Homo sapiens: one gene and its partners. The protein of the gene in region 1 purifies or fractionates together with the protein of each later gene. This does not show direct contact. Each region holds a gene or a part of one and is shown in the gene's direction. Other genes may lie near its edges. The genes, in order: DUSP19, GAPVD1, GTPBP1, MCM6, AP3S1, RHEB and TMOD3.

Region 1 (3,500 bases):
GCCTAATATTGGCCATTCTGTTTTCTTGTTAAAAAATTTACAGGCTCTGGATTGTAACATTCCAGTGTGTGAGTTAATAGTTTTAAAAATAAAAAGGATGTTTCTGTATTGGCTCCTTCTCTAAGGAGATGTAGAATATGCCAGAGATGGCAAAGTATAGATATCATCCATATTCATATTAACATTAGAAGAGATGTAAATGTTGCAAGTAAAAATTAGAGAGGTTAATCATATCTAGAAAGAAAAGCAAGAGATTGAATATTCTAATAAGCTTGGAATTTTAAATAAATTTAAAAAATAAAGTTTGCCTTAATTTGGGCCAGTAAATTAGAGTGGATTTTAGCTTGGGTTTCCTAAAAATAAAGCCTGAGATGAGGATTTAGAGCTTATGCTTAATTTGAGAGGTACAATCTCTAGGCAGTGAGAGTGGCAAGAAAGGAAAGTGATTCAAGGTGGGACGAGAAGCAATACAAAGTGATGCGTTTACCCTGCTGGGCTCATTTCACAGTGAGCTGACTGTTGGCTATTCAGCAGGTACAGCTACTCTACCACCCAAAATACCTCTGGACAGGCAGTACAAAGAAACTGCACCTCAACCCAGCCTGGAAGGGAGGATTTATCTGCCTGGCTTCCTGTCAGCTCCTGTTTCCCATTGGTCAAAGTTTGCCAGTGGGGATATAACCAACCCCACAATTCTAGGTTATAACATTCCACTCTTTCAGCAGCCACCTCGAAGCCAAATCTAACACCCAGTAATACAACTTTTCAACCAAGTTGAGAATTAGAAAATCCAGAACTCAGAGTACGCCTGTCTATACTGTGGACACCATGGAAGAAGAGCTCCTTCTTTGACAGGCAAAAGTGAAAGCAGGGGAGAGCAGTCAGCCATGGAGGTGGTAGCCGAGGTGGAGCATGCTGAGAGGGTCTGTGAGATGGCGGCACCACAGGAATCTGAGGAGCTGCAGAAAATGTTTCTGATAAGATGAATTAGATTTCAGAAATATGTTCTACCCTCTCAAGCCTTGTGTTTTATACTGGAATCCTAACCTCAGCCAATATTTCCCTGCCCTGAAAACTCAGTGCCATGACACAATCTCAGCTCACTGCAACTCCACCTCCTGCACTCAAGTGATTCTCCTGCTTCAGCCTTCCTAGTAGCTGGGATTACAGGTGCGCACCACCATGCCTGGCTAATTTTTGTATTTTTAATAGAGACGGGGTTTTGCCATGTTGGCCAGGATGGTCTCAAATGCCTGACGTCAAGTGATCCACCTGCCTCAGCCTCCCAAAGTGCTGGGATTATAGGCATGAGCCACCATGCCTGGAAGGCTAATATATATTTAGTTTTAGCAATAAAAATTCTTGAATTTTTTTCATTTTTTTTAAGAAAAGATCTCTTCATGCCTTTGTCTATTTTATATTCAAGTATTGTTAAATCTAATTACTCAGTGAATTACATGTTTCAAAACTACCTTTCTAGGCTATAGTTTGTTGTTTTCATCTTTTTGCATACCGTTGCCAAATGGAATGGATTCCATTTCCTAAGTCTTTACTCATTTCCCTCTGTACTTGCAAAACTCTATTTGGCTTCTCTGTCCTTCCTTTATGCCTAAAGGGACAGAAATACACCTGAGAAGAACAGTAATGGTAACTTCTATAGCCCAAAGAGTCCTTTTAGGAACTAAATTTATTTGTCCCCTCTTTTTATGTACAAAAGGTACAAAGTATAACAATGTGTATTTGATATTTCATGTTCATTGTTTATAAGATGTGATTTTAAAAACATGACGTAAGTAGTCCATGTTCTTTGTAGAAAAAATGGAAAATGCAGATGAAAATTAAGACACTTCCACACTTAGATATAAGCATTGTTAGCATTTTGATATATTTTTCTAGACCTATATATGTATTTTTATAAAAATAGTATCATACAGTTTATATTCTTTTATAGCCTGCCTTTTTTTTGGGAGGGCAACTTCATGACTTTATTTGTGGTACCTGTGCTTTATCTTGAAAATACCTTCTCCCCCTGTCCCAGACAGCGGGCTGGGAGGGGGCAGCAAAAAATAGAAGACTTCCCTCCCTATTGCACATGGACCCTATGTACAGGCCCACCCGGCTGAGGCCAGCAGGCCTCTTGGCACATTCTTGGATCCCTGCTCAGGAGGGGAGGGCTGACGGGGTGCTATCACATGTGAGATCGGGAACTCTGGGCGGCCACTTTGGTCCTGGGTACTGATATTTGCACTTCTTGGTCCTCAGTTCCTTCCTGGTCCTGTCTCTGGCCCTAGTCCCCTCTGTATAGCCTGCTTTTTATACTTGATGATTCAAATCATTTAAAATTTTTGCACAGTATTCTGGTAGTTGGTGATTCTATAATTTATCTTATTTCCTGCTATGAGACATGTAAGCTGTTTGTAGTTTTTTGTTCAATAGAAGTAAAAGTTCATTAGAGAGACATTATGGGTCTAAATAAGTACCTAAATTCACGAAGTTTTTAGATGCTTCTGTTACAAGTAGAGGGTCATGACTGCAAGTTGTCCAGGTTCTTGGCATTTTGAACAAATAATTGGACAAAACGCCCATCAAAGCAAAGAAAGAATGAAGCAACAAAAGAGCAAAAGCAGGGATTTATTGAAAGTGAAAGCACACTCCACAGTGTCGGAGCAGGTCCAAGCAGCGGCCCAAGGGACAGGATACAGAATCTTCTTGGGTCCAAATACCCACTAGAAGTTTCCCAATGGCCACTTCATGCTCACCTTATGTAAATGAAGTGGTATCCTGCAGTCAGTCTGATTGGTTGGAGAAAGCAGCCAACCAGAGGCTGAAGTGAAGTTACAAAGGTCACGCTCCTGTGCAAACATCTGATTGGTTGCAAAAAGCAACCAGTGAGAGGCTAGGGTGAAGTTACAAAGTTATACTTCTATGCAAACGAAGACTTGGCCTGCAATTAGTCTGATTGGTTGTGGACAGCAAATTTCCCATCTGCATGCAGAAAAGGTGAGGGGTTTGCAAAGGCAGTAGCCCCCGGTGCTTTTGTTACTTAGGTGTGGAAAGTTAGGGTTTTCCTTTGAATTTAGTTCTGGGAAATCGGAGTAAAACAGCCTTAGGTTCCCTGCCACCAGACCCTATTCTCTTGCTTTACTTCTTCCATTTTGTTTCAAAGCAGTCTACCCATCACTTTTTTGTATTTGTCATATTTACATTCCCCTCTACTACTGTGGATAGTCATGAGTGGACTGTTCTGACCTGTGCTCCTCAAAGTGTTGTCCAGTTTGCTACCAGACCTCTGCAGGATAAGAAGGTTGTGCCTGAATATAAACCAAGACATTGCTTAGTTCTTTGAGAGATTTTGGCTACTCCCCCACCCCACCCAAACGCTGAACTAAGGAGTATATTTTTAGTGACAATTGATTTTCATTCCACTGCAAAATTCTTATTTCATCATAGGTGGCTGTCAAGCACTTGCAGACTATCACATTATACCCAAGGTTTTTTTA
Region 2 (2,441 bases), on another chromosome or scaffold:
AACCATCACTGTTTGATTTCTTGACAGGTATGTGAGATGGGGAGTGATTTGATTTTTTTTTTTTTTTTTAATAGAAAAGAGGAATAGTTGTTCCCCAAATGTTTCTTCCTCCACTGCCTTCCAGTACTTTCTTTACATGAAAGATTAGTGTAAAAGTACAAAATCAGCCCAGGAAACATTCAGCAGCCACTAGTTACTACATAGAATTTATAAAGTGGATGTTAAATGGAGAGAGAGTTGGCTCAGGTCCCCTGAAATCTTGTAGGATTAACTTCTCTGAGGAAAAGAAAAATCAGGTTTGCATTTTGTATTAATATTCTGCTTTTAGAAGTAATAGAAATACAAGTTGAAGATTGTCTTTACTTACAAAATTATATTTTAATTTTTTTTGAGACATAGTCTTGCTCTGTCACCCAGTCTGGAGTGCAGTGCTGTGATCTCGGCTCACTGTAACCACCATCTCCCAGTCTCTAGTGATTCTCATGGCTCAGCCTCCCTGGTTGCTCAGATTACAAGTGTATGCCACCACACCCAGCTAATTTTTGTATTTTTTGTAGAGACAGGGTTTCGCCATGTTGGCCAGGCTGGTCTCGAACTCCTGGCCTCAAGTGATCCGCCTACCTCGGCTTCCCAAAGTGCTGGGATTATAGGCGTGAGCCACCGTGCCCAACCACAAAATTATATGTATATATATTTAAACGTGTCAAACATTTTGCTTTCTTTCTCCATTTTAGGTAAAATCTCAGCCACAGTAATTGCTTTCTTCTGCTTTTTCTTTATAAAAACCTGCTTATGAAGGCCTTCTGATACAGATAGTTAAATCGCTGTAGTAGGAGGCTCAGGTTTTCTAAGGGATTGCAAATGTGCTGCATGGTTTTTCTATTCCTATGTCCTGGAAGCCTTTGTTTAAAGTGGGCTTTACAAATGTGTCCCTGAGGTGCGTGAGCAAGAGAACAATCTCAGCCCCAATACGGGGGCTGTGTTCTTGCCGTAAGAATCTGTAGCTGACTGGTGTGCTGAACCCGGGCACTCTTTTTCCTATTGTTTGCCATGGAAATTTCCACTTTGGACCGAGTAAGGTCAACTAGGTGTTTTAAAATTGTTTTTCTCCTATGTGATTGGGTGTGAAGAGGGAAAGTAGGAATACACTCAGAATTATTACTGGATTGCATAAAAGTGATAGAAGTGTAGTGGGGTTCACTTCCTCAATTGGTGCTTCCTAGATTTTTCTCTCCCATCTCTTCCTGCTTTGTTTCTTTAAAGAAAAGGCTGTTGTCTCTCTTTTTAAATATTTAAGTCTAGTGAGTTTATTTTGTACGCAATTGCTTTAATTTTAAGGGAAGTAAATCTGAAACTATCTTGAAGCCCAAAGGATTTTTAGTAAGTGGATTAACAGTGATGAGGTATTTGCGATTACTTTAAATGCCAAAATGCTTGAGAACTTTGCCAGGTTAAAAATTACTTAATATATTTTAGAATGTAGGTTAGAAAGTAGTAGGACAAGGAATAGCTTTATTACTCTTGAGAACACTTGGATAAATGAAAATATAGTTTGCTTCCGTGTTAAGTTGTGGTTGAGCTATGGAGTGACCCTGGAGCTGCCGCATCCCACAGGCCTGAGCTCAGCAAGGGTTCAATTCAAGAGAGATGACGTCTCCACTTGGATAATGGCAGACAGTGTGGGTAGCGGCCATGCACTAGGGGAATTCACCTCTGTCAAATTAATACTCTCCTGTCTACTGGATTCTTCTTGTGCTTCACCTGGATTAAAAAGCTGTACTGCCTCTTTTGAAACAGATAAAACCTTTCTATAAGTCTCAATTAATGAGCTTGCACAATCTTGTATATGTACAGGAAACCCCTCCTGTCTCCTAATGTGATTAGTACTGTAAAATATTCTATAAAACTGATTAAAAGGGGAGAGCAGTTTGATTCACAGGGTTTTATGTTTCTGTCATCTATTTTATATTCAGAAGCATTTCTGAAAACGTATTTGACTTCCGAATGTTCTGATGTTCTCCGTGAATTCACACACATCTTTTTTATCTGAACAATAAGGGTGTTTGCTAAGTATGGCACAAGAAGGAACTAGAATGACCTGGCAGTAACTAACACAATGGTGAACATCTAAGGGTTTTTTTTTTTTTTTTTTTGAGACAGGGCCTGGCTCTGTCGCCCAGGCTGGAGTGCAGAGGCAGGATCTAGGGTCACTGCAAACTCTGCCTCCTGTTCTCAAAGATCCTCCAGCCTCAGCCTTCCCAGTAGCTGGGACAACAGGCATACGCTACCACACCTGACTAATATTTGTATTGTTTGTAGAGGCAGGGTTTTGCCATGTTGCCCAGTCTCCTGAGCTCAAGCGATCTGCCCGCCTCAACCTCCCAAAGTGCTGGGATTACAGGCGTGAGCCACTGCACCCAGACCTTCATCTATGGATTTAA
Region 3 (4,170 bases), on another chromosome or scaffold:
AAGTGTGAGCCATTGCTCCCGGCCCATATAGGATGGAGGTGAGCAATTTGGCAAGGAAGAAATTAAAAAGCACATAAGAACAGTATCAAGACCATTGGAATCAGATGACTTCCTGTCCAAGATTCCCAGCTGTGTTTGTGCAAATAAGACTTGATAGTAGTGGAAAACAGGGACAAGAAGAGACTGTCTCTTTCTTCTCAGGTAGATCCCCAAAACTGAAAGCCATTTTCAATCCTGCCACTTGCTCACTAAAGATTTAGGGTTTAGGTCCAAACCCTAAGTCTTGGATTCCTTATCTTCTCAAACATGCTCTTGTTTGCTTGATGCCTGGTTCGAGTGGCCAAGGCCGACATTCATAGACGTTGGTTAATCCCTAATTTCGCCAAACAATGACGGCCTAGGCTTTTCCGGCTTTTGAAACAGGAATTCAAGACACTAAAACGTGTGTTGATGGCATTTTGGGTTGGGGCTTTTCACAACTGATGACACTGGAAAAATAATCCATAGGAAACTACCTTATGAGACCCTAGATTTCGGTTTAGCAGTTCACCACAAAAGTGGTGAGGTGTTTTTTGGCTTTTAATTTTAGCTGCTTGCCTCTGTTTTTAGTTCGTGTGATTGCCTCCGCAAAGGCAGTGAATGGAGAATTCTCCCTAAGGTCAGCATTTAATTATTGCCTCACTCTGGCTGCTATAGTATTACAACTCTTGGAACTTACAGCATCGATCCTACTATTAAAGTTGCCTGGAGCATGCCAGCACGTTGGACATCGGCGTTCCAGCAACTGCCTCAGTCACTGAATCGAGTGGGAGGCTCATTTTGCAGTTTACTATCTCCATGAGCAGGTCCAGGCGCGGGACCTGTTCTATGACTCGATTGGGTCCTGCCCTTGTCCGTCATCGGAAGGCTTACAGCGCCTACTGTTTTGCAGTAAGATTTGCAGGCTTAGTACCGCCTCTGGAAACAAGGAGAGTGAAGGGGCGTTGACGAGTAACGTTGTTTGTATTTCTCTCCTCATTGGATGGCTGCTGTGTCAGTCAGACACTTCTCTGCTTCCGTTGGCGGGAAGGCTTCAGGCGGGTAGCGGGGACTCGGTACTGCCCCCTCCCAAGCTGGGAGCAGGGCGCGTGACGTCTCAGACATTTGTTGTTGGGATTTGGGCCTCATTAATTATTCATTAGGTACTTGAAAGCTCTGCAGGGATTGGTGGCTGAGAGGCCTAGTCGACTGTTTCTTAGCTAGAGGTACGTGTCACCCAGTACGCGGCTGGAGTTTTGCATAAATTATTCCGATAAGGAGCGGGGCGGGGCTCTGTGCATAGATTAGTCAAATGAGCCTGGGAGGGAGGGAAGCCGGCTACGAATTAGCCTAAGTTATTAAAGATGGCGACGGAGCGCAGTCGCTCCGCGATGGACTCGCCGGTCCCGGCCTCTATGTTCGCCCCCGAGCCCAGCTCCCCGGGGGCGGCCAGGGCCGCGGCGGCCGCCGCCCGACTCCACGGCGGCTTTGACTCGGACTGCAGCGAGGACGGCGAGGCGCTCAACGGCGAGCCAGAGCTGGACCTCACCAGCAAGGTAGGCCCGGGCGGCGGCGGCGGGCGCTGAGGGGAGCGGGCGGCTGGCCGAGCAGTCTCCCGGGCGACGGCGGGGCCAGCGGCCGCCCTGTCCGCGGGGAGCGCGGAACGGGAAGAAGGGGCCGAGCCCGCCCACCTGCTAGTCTCCGGGACGTGCGGGGGTTCGCGGCGCGAGGGGCCGTCCCCATGGTCCCCGCACCCACCTTGGCTCCCCCGCGTCGCCAACCCAGCCTCCCGCCCTCCCGTCTCCCGCCGAGATCGTAACCCCTCGGCTCTGCCACGTGGAACGGGGGCGCCCGATGCCAGCTGCGCTCCGCGCGTTCCCTGTCCCCGCTCAGTGCCCCTCCCCGTTCTTCGGGTCCCCACTTGAGGGGATTCGGAGACCGAGAGTCTCCTCTCCCTGGACCGCGCGGGACAGCAGAGGGGCGAGGGGGCCCGGGCAGGGGGCCGAGACGCTCATGAAGACAGGTAGTCGGAGGCCAGGGCAGGGTGGCCGCCGCGTCTCTTCCCAGACTCGGGAAAGGAAACAGAAAGTAGTCGCTCAGCTGGGGAGGAGCATGTCCGAGAATGTCTACTTTTCGAGGCCACCCGAAACAAAATGGAAAGATGGTCAGGCTCCTTAGTCTCGCTATCCTGTGAGTGGAAGCTCATCTTGTATGAGTGGAGCAGTGAAGGACGTTTAAAACCGTGTTTTTTGAGCTGTCGAGAAGGTAGGCAGGAATTAAGGCCTCGCCAACGGCTTGACATTGTGAAGAATAGAAAAGTAAATACAAGATGTGACTGGTGTTTTGAAGGTGCTTAACGTTCCTTAGGGAAAGAATGCCAACTTGGGAGTCAGACAGGGCTGGGTTCCCTTTCCTGCCCTACCATCGAAAGGCTCTGTGACGTTGGGAAAGTTTCTTAACCTTTCAGTTCTCCAACCACCTCATCTTAAGAAAGTACAGATGGGTTGTAAAAATTAGAAATATTTAAGAAGACACCTAATAGTGCCTGATGCATACTAGAGACTCAGTAAATGTTTGAAGTGAACGAGATAGTTCCTAATTTCCTGTGCAGATTAAATAGCAGTGGGTGAAAGATAGAACACCAATACCACCACTTACATTTGTAGGATAGTTACGATAGACATTTTATCCAGCTTTGAAAATGTTTGTGACTTTTTATAGTTTATGGCGGCAAATTTGCATGAAACTTGGTCCTAAACTGGGGAGGAACTTTCCCTGCAACCTAAGCAAGTTATTTTCAACTGCTCTTTGCCATTGTAGTCTCAGGTGAGCACTTGGAAGCCAGCTAGCCTGTCAAAGTTGGTCCTGTCTTGTGCCTGTAAGGCCATAATGAGGATGGCCAAACTTAGAGAGAGGGATGGCCAGGACGATGTAAAAGACCCAGGAAACATCCAGGTTACAATTACAAGCTCTGATGAGTCAACTCAGGAAGTTACAAGATTATGGACCTGACTCAAGAGCAAACAAACTGGATGTCAACACATGGTCAAGGTGCTGAAGAAACATGATAGGAAATTGCAGGGCAGAGTTGCAAAGACGGTAGTACCTTCATTTCTTGACCAGCTCATTTAATATTCCTAGAAGTGTTATTTCATCACATAGCTGGGGAAGTCCTCCTTACAATTAAAAAAAATCATATGTATATTAATATCGATGATATCAAAAAGAAAAAGTGATGGTGTGGAGGGAGAGAAGGGTTGGGTTGAATAGATTGATTCCGGAGGAACAGATTAGAAGCGAAAGGTTCATGTCCTTACGATAGAAAATGTGGAGACCTAAGGCTCCGAGAGCTTCCAAAGGGAGAAACACTTAGTGAATAGTGGTGGCTAGTTTCATCCAACAAGGTTTTTCTGGGAATGATTGGGTGAAGAAAACCTTGTAGTTTCACATTTATTGAGCTGTGGACTAGATGCTTTACATGTTATTATATTTGCTCTTTACAGTGGCCTTAGGATGCAGGTAGTATTAGCTCCGTTTTATAGATTGAAAAACTGAAACTCAGAGTGGTTAAATTCTTTGTCCAAGGTCACACAGGAGTGGTTAGAGAATGGGGTCTGATTGCCAAATGGCTTACCCAAGTAAATGGTTGACACTTCAATGTTATTGGCAGACATTTGCAAAATGACGGTGCTAATACTCCTCGTAGTGGTAATGGTGATGGTGCTTTGTTGATGAAGATGAGTCTTGCAGGCAGTTTTCATTCCCAAATATTCAATATAGCTAAGACAAGATAGAACAGAATTCTTTTGTTATCCTGGAAGCCACTGGCCTGTGGGTGGAGGGCATGGAGGTATATGAGGTATATGTCTTGTGGGCTTCCAGATGCCAACTGCAGGTAGAAGACTTTGGCATGTAGATGGAAAGCACTGCGCTTTCTATCCACAGTGCCATATTCTCAGTCACTTGGGTCCTGCCCTTCCTGTTAAGCAGCAGGAGGCAGGCTGCTTGTGCCCTCTTTACCATGGGTTATGGCTCAGACATACACATTGTAGTATATTATTTGGCTCATATAAGGCCTGAGGCTCAAAGGCTACTTCAGGAGAAGCAGAGAGGGCATGAAGGGGCTGTGCAGCCTTTTTAGATGAGGGTGCT
Region 4 (3,500 bases), about 47 Mb from region 1:
ACACCTCATTTCCATGTATTCTTATTTCTGTTCTGCTTCTTAAATCCCTGACTAATTTGTTAGTTTGCAAATTCCCTACAGAAATGGAATCATTGGGTTTGAGACTGAATTTCTTGATTTAACATTTTCCAATCTTAATTATACATGACAGTAGTAAAAGAAGAGTTAGTTGTTGGGTTTTTTTGTTAGTTAGCAGTTAAACCTCACAATCATGGTGGAAGGCAAGGAGGAGCAAGTCACTGATGTCTTACGTGGATGGCATCAGGCAAAGAGAGCTTGTGCAGAGGAACTCCTCTTTTTAAAACCATCAGATCTCGTGAGACTTACTATCAGAGAACAGCAGGGGAAAGACTTGTCCCCATGCTTCAATTAACTCCCACCAGGTGCCTCCCACAACATGTGGAAATTCAAGTCGAGATTTGGGTGGGGACACAGCCAAACCATATCAGAAGGGAGGAGTAACTTGCCCCAAGTTACAGAACTGCCAAACATGGGCCTGTCTGAGCCTAGTTGTTGGACTTTAACCAATGTTCTGAATTATCATTCAGGTTCTTTGTACTGCCTGTGTCCTTAATCTAGTTGACTCGAATGTACCTGCAGGTTTCAGAGCAGCGATGGAGAAATTAAATACTTGCAATTAGCAGAGGAACTGATTCGTCCTGAGAGAAACACATTGGTTGTGAGTTTTGTGGACCTGGAACAATTTAACCAGCAACTTTCCACCACCATTCAAGAGGAGTTCTATAGGTATGGGCATATTAATCTTCTTTACTTTGAATAGGGGTTGAAATCCGGGAAGCCAGCTCTTCTTGGACTGTAAGTGTTCACTTGTGTAGCAGAAGGTCAGCTTTCACAGTTATTTCCCACTGAGAAGAGGCGCTTTGATACTGCCAGTGGTCGTTTTAGTACTGCTCTGAACTTCATGTAGGCCTTTGTAGAGCCGAACGTTTTTTTGTTGTTGTGTTTTGTTTGTTTGTTTGTTTGTTTGTTTTTTGAGACGGAGTCTTGCTCTGTCACACCTAGGCCGAAATGCAGTGGCGCGATCTTGGCTCACTGCAACCTCTGCCTCCCGGGTTCAAGCGATTCTTCTGCGTCAGCCTCCCGAATAGCTGGGATTACAGGCGCCCACCATCACGCCCGGCTAATTATTTACATTTTTTAATAGAGACGGGGTGTCACCATGTTGGTCAGGCTGGTCTCGAACTCCTGATCTCAGGTGATCCGCCCGCCTCGGCCTCCCAAAATGCTGGGATTACAGGCGTGAGCCACCGTGCCCGGCCAGAGCTGAACTTTTTTTTTCAAATACAAATGTTGAAAATCTTTGCTTTCTATATAGTTTTCCCAAGAGGAAAACTGTACTTACTTACTTTTGTGTCATTCCATTGATCCTTTTTCCCCACAGGAATAGGTGTTTGTGTGGGTCCTTTTCTTGTACTGGGGATATCTTTACAGCATTGACGTTGTTGTACTTCTTGTTCCCTTAAAGTTTAATTTTGTTTTCGCTTATAAAAGTAATAGGTATATATTGTAGAAAATGGAGAAGAGTAAGGAGAATTAAATTGCTTATACACTTGTAATCCACCACCGTCATTAGCAGATCTGCTACAACAGAGTTCCAGGAGCCTTCCAAGTCTGCAAGTGCAGAGTTTTGTAAGGATCTTCTGTCACATTTTGATGTCTTTGTGTGTATGCTGTGTATGAAATTACTCAAATTCATATAAAATTTCTTAAACTCATACTAATAGCTCCAATTGTGGTTTTTTGGTAGAAATACTATGGTTAGACATTATATTTAATAGAAGGCTTTTATTTTGTTTTGACTTGTTATATATAGCAAGAAACATCTTTGCACACAAGACTTTGTATTAGGATTAAATAAATGTGACAGTCTATAGAAATAGAATCAGGTTAAAATAAATTGTGGACAGTTGTGAAAGATAAATGAAAACCCAGGGATAAGGAGGCACAGTCTCGTTCATTTCTTAGTAGATTAGGAGATGGAGGATTTGTCTGTGTTTCTGGTCATAGCTGATGATCAAGAATAATTGGAGGGGGTAAGTAAGCAACAGGATTTATTGTGAAAGCATGCAGCAGTAGAAGTTATAGCACTGACAAATAAGGGAGAGGTAGACAATCAAGCCTGGTGGTAGAAGCAGCTGTGCCATGCCTCATGCACAAGCCAGGCAGCAGTTCTCTTTCCTGAGAGTAGCGCCTTTTTTAGAGGGTTTCAGACCCCACTTCTTAAACAAACTAAGCTGGAGTAGGTATTAGAAACATATCAAAAGGACATGCATACTTCACTCTCACCAGTCAAATGGAGCATTTTTGCCAATTTGTTCTCACATTAGTGCACAAATACTTCTCCTGTCCTCATCCATTTCTTATCAAACCAGCCAGATGTGGTGGCTCACACCTGTAATCCTAACACTTTGGGAGGCTGAGGTGGATAGATCACTTGAGCCCAGGAGTTTGAGACCAGCCTGGACAACATGGTGAAATCCCATTTCTACAAAAAAAACCCCACAAAAATTAGCTGGGCATGGTGGTGCATGCCTGTAGTGCCAGCTACTCAGCAAGCTGAGATGGGAGGATCACCTGAGCCTAGGTAGATTGAGGCTGCAGTGAGCTGTGATCGTGCCACTGCACTCCAGTCTGGGTGACAGAGTGAGACCTTGTCTCAGAATGAAACCAAAGAAATTGACTGACTTGACACATGACTTACTAAGTCATAAACAGCCCACAGAAAATTCACAGTATTGAGCATAATATTGACAAGATGATTGTTCAGCTAGTCATCTTGGACAGAGGAATGGCCAACAGTGTGGGTGCTGTATGATTATTTATGTGCTATATGATAATCAGGTATGGTATGACATTTTATATTTAGTGTTCCGGTGGGATAGGAGAGAACTGAAAGAGGGTCCTAAACCTAGAGTAGATAATAGAAGTGTCCTACACAGTTAAGTTCTAAGGTTTAGTTGTAACCAGATGAAATTCCTTAATCTCGGCTGTTGGTAGGTATGTAAAGGGAAGGAGGCCTTGGTAAACCTCTAAGGTATCAGCTGACTTTTTTGTTTTTCAGAGTTTACCCTTACCTGTGTCGGGCCTTGAAAACATTCGTCAAAGACCGTAAAGAGATCCCTCTTGCCAAGGATTTTTATGTTGCATTCCAAGACCTGCCTACCAGACACAAGTAAGAAACCCTTCTCTGGAAAAAAAGGAATTCACCAAATGGTATAAGTACCACTTAGCTGACAGTCAGAAAACTTGAGAGGTTGCCTTGATCTGCTATTAGCTGGCTATTTAACATTATACAAATCACTTTTACCTCCCTGAGCCTCAGTTTCCTTGTCTGTGAAGTCTTTTGGCTTAGGTTTTCTACCTAAATCATGCAAAAAATAGGTTTGTTGCTGTAAAATTACTTTTTCATAATTGATAATCACAATAATTATAAAACAAGTACTTATAAAATTGATGCTGTAAAATACCAGGAGGAAAAA
Region 5 (3,324 bases), on another chromosome or scaffold:
TGTACATTTAATACTGAAAACATTATGTTTACTATTTATAAGTGTAAACCATAGTGTCCAATAAAATACACAGATAAACACACACACACACACGCACAATTTCTCTCACAATAATAAAATCCCTTAATAATTCACACCTTTAAAATATTTATACTCAAATATTTTGTCAATACTTTTCTATAGTCAGTTCATTATTTGTCTTCTTTATGGAAATTCCTAAGTAAAAATAGTGGCAAATTGGTCTTTTAACTAGAAAAATTACAAAATCCTCCTATCTAAAAAATGATACTACCTCCAGGACGTCTGCAATTTTGTAAATTTTTCTTCCTTAGTAGACAACATACTTCCTGGTAAAAGAAAGCCAAAAGATGGTAAACCTCTTTGAATTGGATTCTTCTTTGATCCCAACCCACTCTAAATTTTGGTAGCTAGACCTTTAACTTGAAACGATCAAATTAAAGACCCTTTCAAATATTATACATGCTGCCTTAATTATTATTTAGTTGTATCTCCAACATCTTTGGGGGAGCAGGAAGGAAGGGGGGGTAACAAAAACTTCATTGCTTCAGGTAGGTATAAGTATAGAGGTCAATCACATTTTTAGTTGTACATCAAAAATAACTAACATCCATTAAATTATAAAACTTCTCCAGCCCTATTCACTATTTAATTGGGTATGGAGTTATTCATTTGTATCACTCTTATCATTGCCTGTGTAGAATATACTTATTATTAATACTATTCTACTAATTTTTCTATTATTTCCAATTCTGAATTGATAATCCATGGCTTTTATTTCATTGCTTAACAATGTTTGTATCCTTTATTTAGCAAATAGTTTACACTGGCCTATTTTGTATCAGTCAAGATTTTTCTCAGGTAACAGCTTTATTATTATTTTTATTTTAATTAACAAAGGTAGGATTACATAAGAAAAGAAAACTAAAATTATGAAAAGGGACCTTAAAGCTAGTGTTTCTAATTTTATGGACATTGCCATATATAATCTAATCAAAGTGGAAGATTCGTTTTTGTTGTCTATTTTTGTACAAAATGATGCCACTGAACTCAGATGTCTTTGTTGACTTTGCTTTATTATATAGCCTGAATAAAAAGTAATGAAATGTAATTGGTATATAAATTAAACCTCAAATATGAAGGCTGTTAACGTAGGTGAGAAAAATGATATGTATGCATTTTCTTTTATTTGTAAGCATATTTTCTTTTAAAATTATTTCACAAATTACAAATGTTCCTACTAATAGGAAAGCCAAATATTATGCACTAGTGGTACTTACTGGAAATTTTAGAATTCATTTATTTATATTTACTACCTCTTGCATTTATGCTTTTCTTTCTCTAAATTTGTAAACTGTAAGCTGAATATATGTTGCTGAATCTATGCTATATGACAAAACATTTTTAATCGTTATATTTTTACTAATGCATCAAAGGGTTGGAATGATCCTCTTCGTGTAGTTTCATCTTTAGGCAGAACTATATTCTTTGGATTGAGGCTTTACTTGAAAGCCTATTTTTTTAATGTTCTAGAACTTTATTAGAAAAGTTTAAAAGAGCCCTCACAATTTAAAAAACTAATTTTATTGTTTTAAAATGTTTTAAGGGTTTATCCCTAAGAAATTAAACAAGCACAATCTATTACTTGCAATTTTTATTTCACAGCACATATTGCTAATAAATGCCATTTTAAAAGCAAAAGAAAATCTATCACAATCGTTGCAAGAGATATTTAATAAGGAAACTAATGTAAATCATGCTTCATGCTATCTGTCAGTTAAATCAAGATATAGGTGAAGATTTAGGTTTTATCATGTGAATATTGTGTGGTAGTGCACATTAATTTGTATTTAAATCTTTACATTGTTATCATTGCATGTGTTCACTGTATTTTTTAATGTGTCACTGTTTTCTCTTTATAGATTAGTATTTCAAAGTAACCATTCCATACCAATTCAAACTACCATCTGGTCCCTAAGCTTGTTATATGAAAATCTTTTATCATTGTCTTCCATTGTAAGTGTTTTATGATGAGCTACACCTGAGTTGTACATTTTCTTTTTCTTTTATTTGCTTCTGTATACAGGCTGGCTTAGCAGGAGCTCCAGCCCGTGCTGTATCAGCTGTAAAGAATATGAATCTTCCTGAGATCCCAAGAAATATTAACATTGGTGACATCAGTATAAAAGTGCCAAACCTGCCCTCTTTTAAATAAAAATGTAAAAAGGCCACTCCCAGGTAAAATCCAGGGGGAAGAGTCATCTAAGTTTACCATGCAGTTGTTTACCAAAAATAGAGGAGGAGAGTCTTAACTTTTGCTCTTGGATTTAAGTCAAGGTACTGTATAGAAGTTGTGTAAAATCAGTATGAAAGTTCAATGTTGCTGTTCTTGCTCAGTGATTTTAAAGAAATTGAGTAGTTCCTATGTGATTTTTTTTTTTCTTTTCTAAACTGCATTCCTGTGCCCACCTACGGCATGCCTCTATGTATTGGCTACTACAGTGTTTTAAAAAGTGTTTCAGATATTTCTCTAATTATGTACAACCTAAAATGTTGGTGTTTTGTATGGATCACAAGTGCAGCATTCCTTAATTCCTTCTGCTATATGTCACACAGTTGTTATTTGGAGAACCAAGTATGTATTGCATGAAAACATTATGACTTTTTTCTCTTAGTTTAAATAAACTCCAAGGTAACTGGACTTCTAAAGCACCTTTCTGTTTGCCTGATATCTACTTTAGCAATAATTTTTTTTACAACCCTCTGACTCAACAAAGTAAATAAAAGTATATTTTATCACTATTAAGCAGATGTTAATGTCGATTTATTTTTTACTCATATTTTTAATATTCAGAAACTCAGTAAATTATTCGGAAACTCAATTATTTCACAAATCAAGAGCAGTGTATCTTAGGCATATTGCGCAAGATGAGATCTGGAGTGGGGGGGCGACAGTCTTTCTAAAATGTATATTGAGAAAATGTAAAATCTTTTTTATACAAATAGCTTTAAGCCTTGCCTCTTGTTCCTTCTTGCCCAGATGGTAAAAAATAATTTCAGCCAATACCTAATTGATTTTGAATACAAAAACCCTTGGGACTCTACTTGTCTGTTTCATCCTAAAACAAAGTTAAACTAATGTTTTCTTAAGTCCTAACACTCACATATTCTAGTTTCTTATAATTGGCCCACATTTTATTTGGTCTTCCATGAACTGTGAGTGAGGTTACTTTTCCAGTTAGACTAAGGTTTTCCTTACAGTTCTAGTTCTCCTTCCTCAAATATTCTCTTTGAAATACTTCCATA
Region 6 (3,500 bases), on another chromosome or scaffold:
ACTGCAGCCTCAACCCTTCGGCTCAAGCGATCCTCCTACATCAGCTTCTTGAGTAACTGAGACTATATGCACACATCACCACACTCAGCTAATTTTTATATTTTTTTTGTAGAGATAGGGTTTTATCACGTTGTCCAGGCTGGTCTCAAACTCCTGGGGTCAAGCAATCCACCGGCCTCAGCCTCCCAGAGTGCTGGGATTACAGGCATGAGCCACCACACCGGGCTAATAAGTTATTTTTTAGGAGAATAAGCATGATAACAAAGTCAATATTAATCTGAAAACTTAAAATAATTCTGTAAACAGTGCCTATTTTGCAGTAATCATGAGGTATAAGATTGAGTCAACACCCCTGAAAGTACACCTTCTGTAGTGAAAATACCAGCTGAGAAACTCACTGTGCCATTTTATCATTGGAAAAAATAATACAATGCTGTTCCCTGATAAAAGCTCAGAAGAATTTTTTAAAATAATTTTTATTTTTAAAAGTTAAGGTGGGTTTTGGTTTGGAGGAAGAGTATTTGACAGTTAATTGTAGGAATTGAGATACTGCCTTTTAAACCATTTATAGTAATTTATGTCATTAAATGAGTGATTTGTGTTTGAGGATAAACACACATCTGAGTATGGGCTACTTTTCCATTTATTTGGGATCACTCCTGTGTAGTTTTCATGTAACATTTTTCCAAAGAGTTGATCTGGAGTGTGAGATTATCTTCAGCAAGCGAGTAACAGTGTTTCCAGACCTGAATTTGCTAAGGACAAAAGCCAAAGTAAATATATGAAGTTATTGAGAGAAAAAGGTTAAAGGTGATCACAGTAGAGATCACCAATGCCTTTTTGTGGTTGCAAACAAACTAGAAAAACCTAACCAAAAGATCTGAACTACGTCTCCAGAAGACACTCCTTAAAGCCAGAAATTACAACTGGAACTGAGAACACTTGAAAATGAGCGGTGGGGTTTATTTATGAAGATTCATTAGCATTTAATGCTGACTTGTCAAGATTTCAACACTAGTTAATAATAGCACTTTTTAATGGAAATGGCAAAAAACAGCATGTTAGCAAATATAGCCTTCCTATCCCTTCTGGATTAGTTAAATAATTAATGACCTCACCTTGGCGGGAGAGCCCCAGGGAGGAGAGACCCAAGGGAAACGTAGTTTTTCTCCAGTGCCACTTCTGCTAATGAACAGTACCTTTCTCCTAGGGCCAGTCTGATTGAAAATCCAGTTTCCACCCTGGAGGAATACGTTTTAAATTCTGGTATCCCAGTTTACTATTCATGAAAACAACAGTTGGCTGTCAACCTGCGATGTGATTTTGGTTAGACTACATTGTCTGTTACCGGAATGATTACTTATGTTTTCAAGTGAAATGTTAATTTAGCCTGTCAAATAGTGTATGCCCATTGTGATACAAATAAGGAGCTCTTCTCTCACTCCGTTTTTGCACTTGATCTCATGCTGTCTTGTTTAATGTGTGTAACTTTCTTTTCTGTTCAAATGTGGCTTCCTGAATTTCACGGGAAACTCCTGAGGCTCTTTTCCCCCGTCCCTTCACTCCCGCAAGTCAGGTTGTCGAGACTTGGCCAGTGCCAGTTCAGAGGACTGTCTGATCCAGGGGTTCCTGGTTGCCCAGTGCTTGGGGAGCTTATCCCATGTATCATACTTAGCCCCTCTTTCACTATTTTTAGTCCAGTTCTACTACACAAAATGTTGCAAAAATCTTTTTAATTATATTATTTCCTTTTTTCTTTGTAACTCTTGCCCATATCTTTAGGGAGAAAATGATCGCTTTCTTTCCTTTCTTTCCATTTGTAAGCAAAACAAAAACCCCACAAACCCTTATCCTACCCACATAAGGGTATAAAAAGCCCACTGGAGTCCTTAGAAGTACCTTGCAAAAGCCCTTAAGAAGTTTGTTCCCTTCTTTCTTTCTAATTAAATTTCATTTCTTTAAGCAGTAGCATTCAGTGTAAATAACAGTTTGTTTTTTTTTTACTCCTTCTAATTTTTCAGTTTCAATAACATGAGAGGAGTTTTCTTCTTGCTATTTTTGTTACCTGAAGTAGTTCTGCTGTATTTTGAGTTAAATTCTCCTTTACAGGCTAGCATATATAACATGGTTTCTTTTCAACACAATTCATTTTAAATTTGTGGAATTCTTAAACTATTGTATTCCTATATCACAGGCAAGCCTGTGATTAGGTACCAATAAATACTAATTGAATTGTTTCTTAATTTCTGTTGAACTGTGTTTTGTATTTCATTTGTATAAAATTGAGATCTTTTGTAGTATCTAAATGGCTAAGAGTGACCTTTGGAGATCTACGCTTTAATTTCGTTCATTTGTTCAGAAATCTCAATGTTTACAATGTGTCGGCTGGCCCTGTGCTGGCTTCAGTGGAGTGTTCACTAAATGAATATCATTCCAAATAACTTAATAAAACAGTAGCTATGAGAATGACTTTTAAGGAATGGGTACTACCTTAGGGTGGTCTTGAAGGTTTCTCTGTGAAACTAACATTTGAGCTCAGATCAGAATGACAAAGATGAGTCATATATTCAGAGATGGGGGCAGTGGGGGTTGCTAGAGTAAAGGGGCCAAGGCAGGCAGGAACTCCAGGAGCAGAAGGGATGTGACTGGAGCCTCAGGATGGGTTGTCGGGGGCTGTTGGCGGATGAGGTCAGAGTGGTAACCAGAGCAGGGATGGCCTGGTGTTTGTGGGCCACGGTTAGAAGCTGGGAATTTAGGGCAGGCGCGGTGGCTCACGCCTGTCATCCCAGCACTTTGGGAGGCCGAGGCGGGTGGATCATGAGGTCAGGAGTTCGAGACCAGCCTGACCAATGTGGTGAAACCCTGTCTCTACTAAAAATACAAAAAAAATTAGTCAGGTGTGGTGGCGCGTGCCTGTAATCCCAGCTACTCAGGAGGGCTGAGGCAGGAGAATCGCCTCAACCCGGGAGGCAGAGGTTGCAGTGAGCCAAGATTGCACCACTGCACTCCAGCCTGGGTGACACAGCAAGACTCCGTCTCAAAAAAAAAAAAAAAAAATGTTGAGAATTTATTCTAATTGCAATGAGGATTGGAAGCAGAGAAGTAGCGTTTAATTTTCAAATGCTCATGTAGGTTGCTTTGTAGAGAATAATTTCAGGTATTAGTAATTCTAGAGACATTTTGAACTGTATTGGGCTGCGGATAAGGAGTAAATAGGTCTACCAACTTGTGGCCTTTCCTTCTCAGCAACCCCTACTTTTTTTCTTTTTTTTTTTTTATAAGACAGAGTCTCACTCTGTTGCCCAGAGTGGAGTGCAGTGGCGCCATCTCAGCTCACTGCAACCTCCGCCTCCTGGGTTCAAACTATCCTCCTGCCTCAGCCTCCTGAGTAGCTGGGATCGCAGGTGCCCATCACCACGCTTGGGTAACTTTTTTTGTATTTTTAGTAGAGACAGGACCAACCATGTTGGCCAGGCTGGTCTCGAACTCCAGACCTCAGG
Region 7 (3,500 bases), on another chromosome or scaffold:
ATTTACCCTCATTTTGGCTTCACATGATCCAGCTACAGCAAGACCCAAATAAGAAAAGATGTTACAGCGACATTGATGAAGTTGGTCTAACACAGAAACTGAAAGAGTGAGAGAGACAGAAGAAAGAAGCATGAAGTAGGGAATGAGGAGTAGAGAATGTCACCAACGGGGAATTACATGTGACCAAAAAATCAAAAGATTATGACTGGGTACATATGAAAAATAGGTACAGGCCAGGTGTAGTGGCTCACACCTGTAATCCCAGCACTTGGGGAAGCCGAGGTGGGTGGATTGCTTGAGCCCAGGAGTTTGAGACCAGCCTGGGCAACATGGTGAAACCCCATCTCTACAAAAAATACAAAAATTAGCCGGGCATGGTGGCACACAACTGTAGTCTCAGCTACTCAGGAAGCTGAGGTGGGAAGATCAATTGAGCCCAGGAGGCAGAGGTTGCAGTGAGCTGTGATCCTGCCACTGCACTCCAGCCTGGGTGACAGGGCAAGACCCTGTCTCAAAAAAAAAAAAAAGAAAGAAAAGTAGATACAGTCATCCATGGGTTCAACCAACTTCAGATCAAAAATATTTGGAAAAAAATTCTATGAATTTCCAAAAGCAAAATCTGAATTTGCTGTATGCCAGGTACTATGTTGAATCCACAAAAATGAAGTGATGTGTAGGCATTGTATTAGGTATATTAAGTAACCTAGAGGTAATGAAAAGTATACAGGAGCATGTGTGAAGGTTATATGCAAATACTATGCCATTTTCTATAAGGCACTTGAGCATCTGAAGATTTTGGTATCTGCAGATGGTCCTGGAACCAACCCCCAACAAATACTGAGGGACAACTGTACATGTGAGAGCTATGGGCTACTGTGTCAAACTGAAACAACTAATGACAAACATTAAGGCAGTTAATTAATGTATTTATTTATGGCATGTACAATATGTAGTAGGTACTGTATCAAATTTTAATCTCTTAATATTTTCTCTAATTTCTAGGCTTTTGCAGAAATGCTGAAAGTGAACAAAACTTTGAAGAGCTTAAATGTGGAGTCCAACTTTATCACGGGAGTTGGGATTCTGGCACTGATTGATGCGTTAAGAGATAATGAAACCCTGGCAGAGCTCAAGATTGACAATCAGGTCAATGTTCTACAATAATAACGTCGAGGAAGCTACAGCCCACGCTGCTGTGTAGGGCTTGGCGACTCAGGATGGGGATGGGAGGCGGGCTGTCAGGGATCCCTGTTGGAAGATGCTGGGCTGAAAGGAGAGCTGACATTTGGGGTATCTAGAATATTAACTCAGTGTATATAACAGTGTATACAATGTAAAGGTGTATACTCTCCCTAGATCATTTTAAGAGAATTTAGATGGCTATCTAGTTTGAACTGAGAGGACTCTTACATGTGACCTAGTCCACCTTCCAATTTTTCAGCTCTGTGCTGGCAAGGTCCACATTGTAGGGTTTTTGTAAAAGGCAGAGAGATACATGTTAGAAATGTTTCCATCCAGAGTAGCTATTAATTTTTTTATTTGAAAAAATAACTCCATTTATTTGAAAAAATATTTGTTAAATGTCTCCTTCAGTCCTTCAAAGTAAATACATTTTGTAAACTATGAAGGTGGAAAAGAGGATTATGTCTTAAAATTTAACCCAGTGCTTCATAATCCATGTTTTTCATTTTTTTATTGAGATATAATTACATACAGTAAAATTCATTTTCTTAAAGTATACAGCTAAATGGTTTTTAGTATATTTGTAGAGTTTTGCAGCCATTACCACTAATTCCAGAACATTTTCATTACCCCAAAAAGAAACCCCATACCCATTAGCAGTCACTCCCCATTCACCCCTCTCACCAGGCTCTGGCAATCACTCATCCACTTTCTGTTTCTTAGGATTTGCCTATTCTGGACAGCTTATATCTGTGGAATCAAACAATATTTGATCTTTTTGTGCCTGGCTTCTTTCACCTGGCATAATGTTCTGGAGGTTCATCTGTATTGTAGCATACATCAGGACCTCATTCTTTTATGACTGAATAATATTCTATTCCATTTGGGGTGTGTCCACATACGGGCCACTAGAAATAATGCTGCTGTGAACATTCATTACAAACTCTAACATGGACATAGATTTTCATTTCTCTTCAGTATATAGCTAGGAGTGTATTGCTGGGTCACATGGTAACTCTATGTTTAACTTTTTGAGCAGCAGCCAGTTTTCCACAGTAGCTGTACCATTTTACATTCCTCTCAGCAATGTCCCCATTTTTCCACATTCTTGCCAACACTTGTTATTATCTATCTTTTTTATTATACTTATCCTAGTGGGTATGAAGTGATATGTCATTATAGTAATTCACACTTTTTTGATGTCTATATGATCATATTACTGAACTTTAAAAAGTTTAGTGTGTGTGTGTGTGTGTGTGTGTGTGTGTGTGTGTGTGTATAAAGTTCCAGTGAGGCTGTGGTGATGATTGGGTCAATGGGTAAAATCCCCTTCCTGTGACAAACATTTCATAGCTTTAAGTGACCAGTTTTCTACAACAAACAATTTGTTCTCAGTTACAAATCAGTACTTGGAACTACTGAACTATGTATATGTTGTAGGAATTGGGAACATTTAAAGAGATCAAAGAATTAGCATGTGCCTGAATGTCTTAATTTACCTTGAAAAGTATTTTGATCTAGTTTATTAATATTGTTCTTTTTTTCTAATTACTCCAGAGGCAGCAGTTGGGGACAGCTGTAGAATTGGAAATGGCCAAGATGCTTGAGGAAAATACAAATATCCTTAAATTTGGATATCAGTTTACACAGCAGGGACCACGAACCAGAGCAGCTAATGCTATAACAAAAAACAATGACTTAGGTAAGACATAGTATCGATCAAGTTTCTGAGTTCTATCACAAGCTAACGTATTGGGGGAACTTCTTTCCCTCTTAAGAATAAATTCTAACAGAGAAGTTATTTGGCCTTTGTTTCTAAAATCTGCATGGTCCTTTATATACTGATTGAATTCAAGTTCAATTAAAGTGAGGTTGTGATGATTGGGTCAATGGGTAAAATCAGCTTCCTGTGACAAGCGTATTTCATAGTTTTAAGTGACCAGTTTTCTACAACAAACAATTTGTTCTCAGTTACAGATCAGTCCTTGGAACTATTGAAACAAAGATTTCAACATTATCGGAAAGTTTTTTGCCCTTTTAATCAAGCGGACCCAGATAGAAATTCAATTTTATATGATAGAATGTGGATATAGAAATATATAAAATAGAGAATAATTATATTTCTCACCCAGGTTTTTTGTTGTTGATTTTTTTTGAGACGGAGCCTCGCTGTGTTGCGAGGCAGGAGTGCAGTGGCGCCATCTCGGCACACTGCAACCTCCGCCTCCCAGGTTCAAGTGATTCTCCTCCCTCAGCCTCCCGAGTAGCTGGGACTACAGGCGTGCGCGCCGTGCCCAGCTAATTTTTGTATTTTTTTT

The links.
Region 2: the proteins of DUSP19 (region 1) and GAPVD1 purify together in Homo sapiens (affinity purification with mass spectrometry, with the first as the bait; one large-scale study listed by BioGRID). This does not show direct contact.
Region 3: the proteins of DUSP19 (region 1) and GTPBP1 purify together in Homo sapiens (affinity purification with mass spectrometry; one large-scale study listed by BioGRID and IntAct). This does not show direct contact.
Region 4: the proteins of DUSP19 (region 1) and MCM6 purify together in Homo sapiens (affinity purification with mass spectrometry, with the first as the bait; one large-scale study listed by BioGRID). This does not show direct contact.
Region 5: the proteins of DUSP19 (region 1) and AP3S1 purify together in Homo sapiens (affinity purification with mass spectrometry, with the first as the bait; one large-scale study listed by BioGRID). This does not show direct contact.
Region 6: the proteins of DUSP19 (region 1) and RHEB purify together in Homo sapiens (affinity purification with mass spectrometry, with the first as the bait; one large-scale study listed by BioGRID). This does not show direct contact.
Region 7: the proteins of DUSP19 (region 1) and TMOD3 purify together in Homo sapiens (affinity purification with mass spectrometry, with the first as the bait; one large-scale study listed by BioGRID). This does not show direct contact.

What each region holds. Positions count from the first base shown.
Region 1 is NC_000002.12:183,088,747-183,092,246, forward strand, and holds part of DUSP19 (dual specificity protein phosphatase 19), read left to right. Parts: intron 1-3,500.
Region 2 is NC_000009.12:125,365,267-125,367,707, forward strand, and holds the end of GAPVD1 (GTPase-activating protein and VPS9 domain-containing protein 1), read left to right. Parts: 3' UTR 1-1,941; downstream 1,942-2,441. UniProt on the Homo sapiens protein: Acts both as a GTPase-activating protein (GAP) and a guanine nucleotide exchange factor (GEF), and participates in various processes such as endocytosis, insulin receptor internalization or LC2A4/GLUT4 trafficking.
Region 3 is NC_000022.11:38,704,574-38,708,743, forward strand, and holds the start of GTPBP1 (GTP-binding protein 1), read left to right. Parts: upstream 1-1,370; 5' UTR 1,371-1,382; coding exon 1,383-1,574; intron 1,575-4,170. UniProt on the Homo sapiens protein: Promotes degradation of target mRNA species. Plays a role in the regulation of circadian mRNA stability. Binds GTP and has GTPase activity.
Region 4 is NC_000002.12:135,869,944-135,873,443, reverse strand, and holds part of MCM6 (DNA replication licensing factor MCM6), read left to right. Parts: intron 1-600; coding exon 601-747; intron 748-3,082; coding exon 3,083-3,193; intron 3,194-3,500. UniProt on the Homo sapiens protein: Acts as a component of the MCM2-7 complex (MCM complex) which is the replicative helicase essential for 'once per cell cycle' DNA replication initiation and elongation in eukaryotic cells.
Region 5 is NC_000005.10:115,911,258-115,914,581, forward strand, and holds the end of AP3S1 (AP-3 complex subunit sigma-1), read left to right. Parts: intron 1-831; coding exon of another isoform or gene 832-879; exon of another isoform or gene 880-2,098; intron 2,099-2,104; coding exon 2,105-2,233; 3' UTR 2,234-2,824; downstream 2,825-3,324. UniProt on the Homo sapiens protein: Part of the AP-3 complex, an adaptor-related complex which is not clathrin-associated. The complex is associated with the Golgi region as well as more peripheral structures.
Region 6 is NC_000007.14:151,492,396-151,495,895, reverse strand, and holds part of RHEB (GTP-binding protein Rheb), read left to right. Parts: intron 1-3,500. UniProt on the Homo sapiens protein: Small GTPase that acts as an allosteric activator of the canonical mTORC1 complex, an evolutionarily conserved central nutrient sensor that stimulates anabolic reactions and macromolecule biosynthesis to promote cellular biomass generation and growth.
Region 7 is NC_000015.10:51,899,153-51,902,652, forward strand, and holds part of TMOD3 (tropomodulin-3), read left to right. Parts: intron 1-1,002; coding exon 1,003-1,146; intron 1,147-2,739; coding exon 2,740-2,884; intron 2,885-3,500. UniProt on the Homo sapiens protein: Blocks the elongation and depolymerization of the actin filaments at the pointed end. The Tmod/TM complex contributes to the formation of the short actin protofilament, which in turn defines the geometry of the membrane skeleton.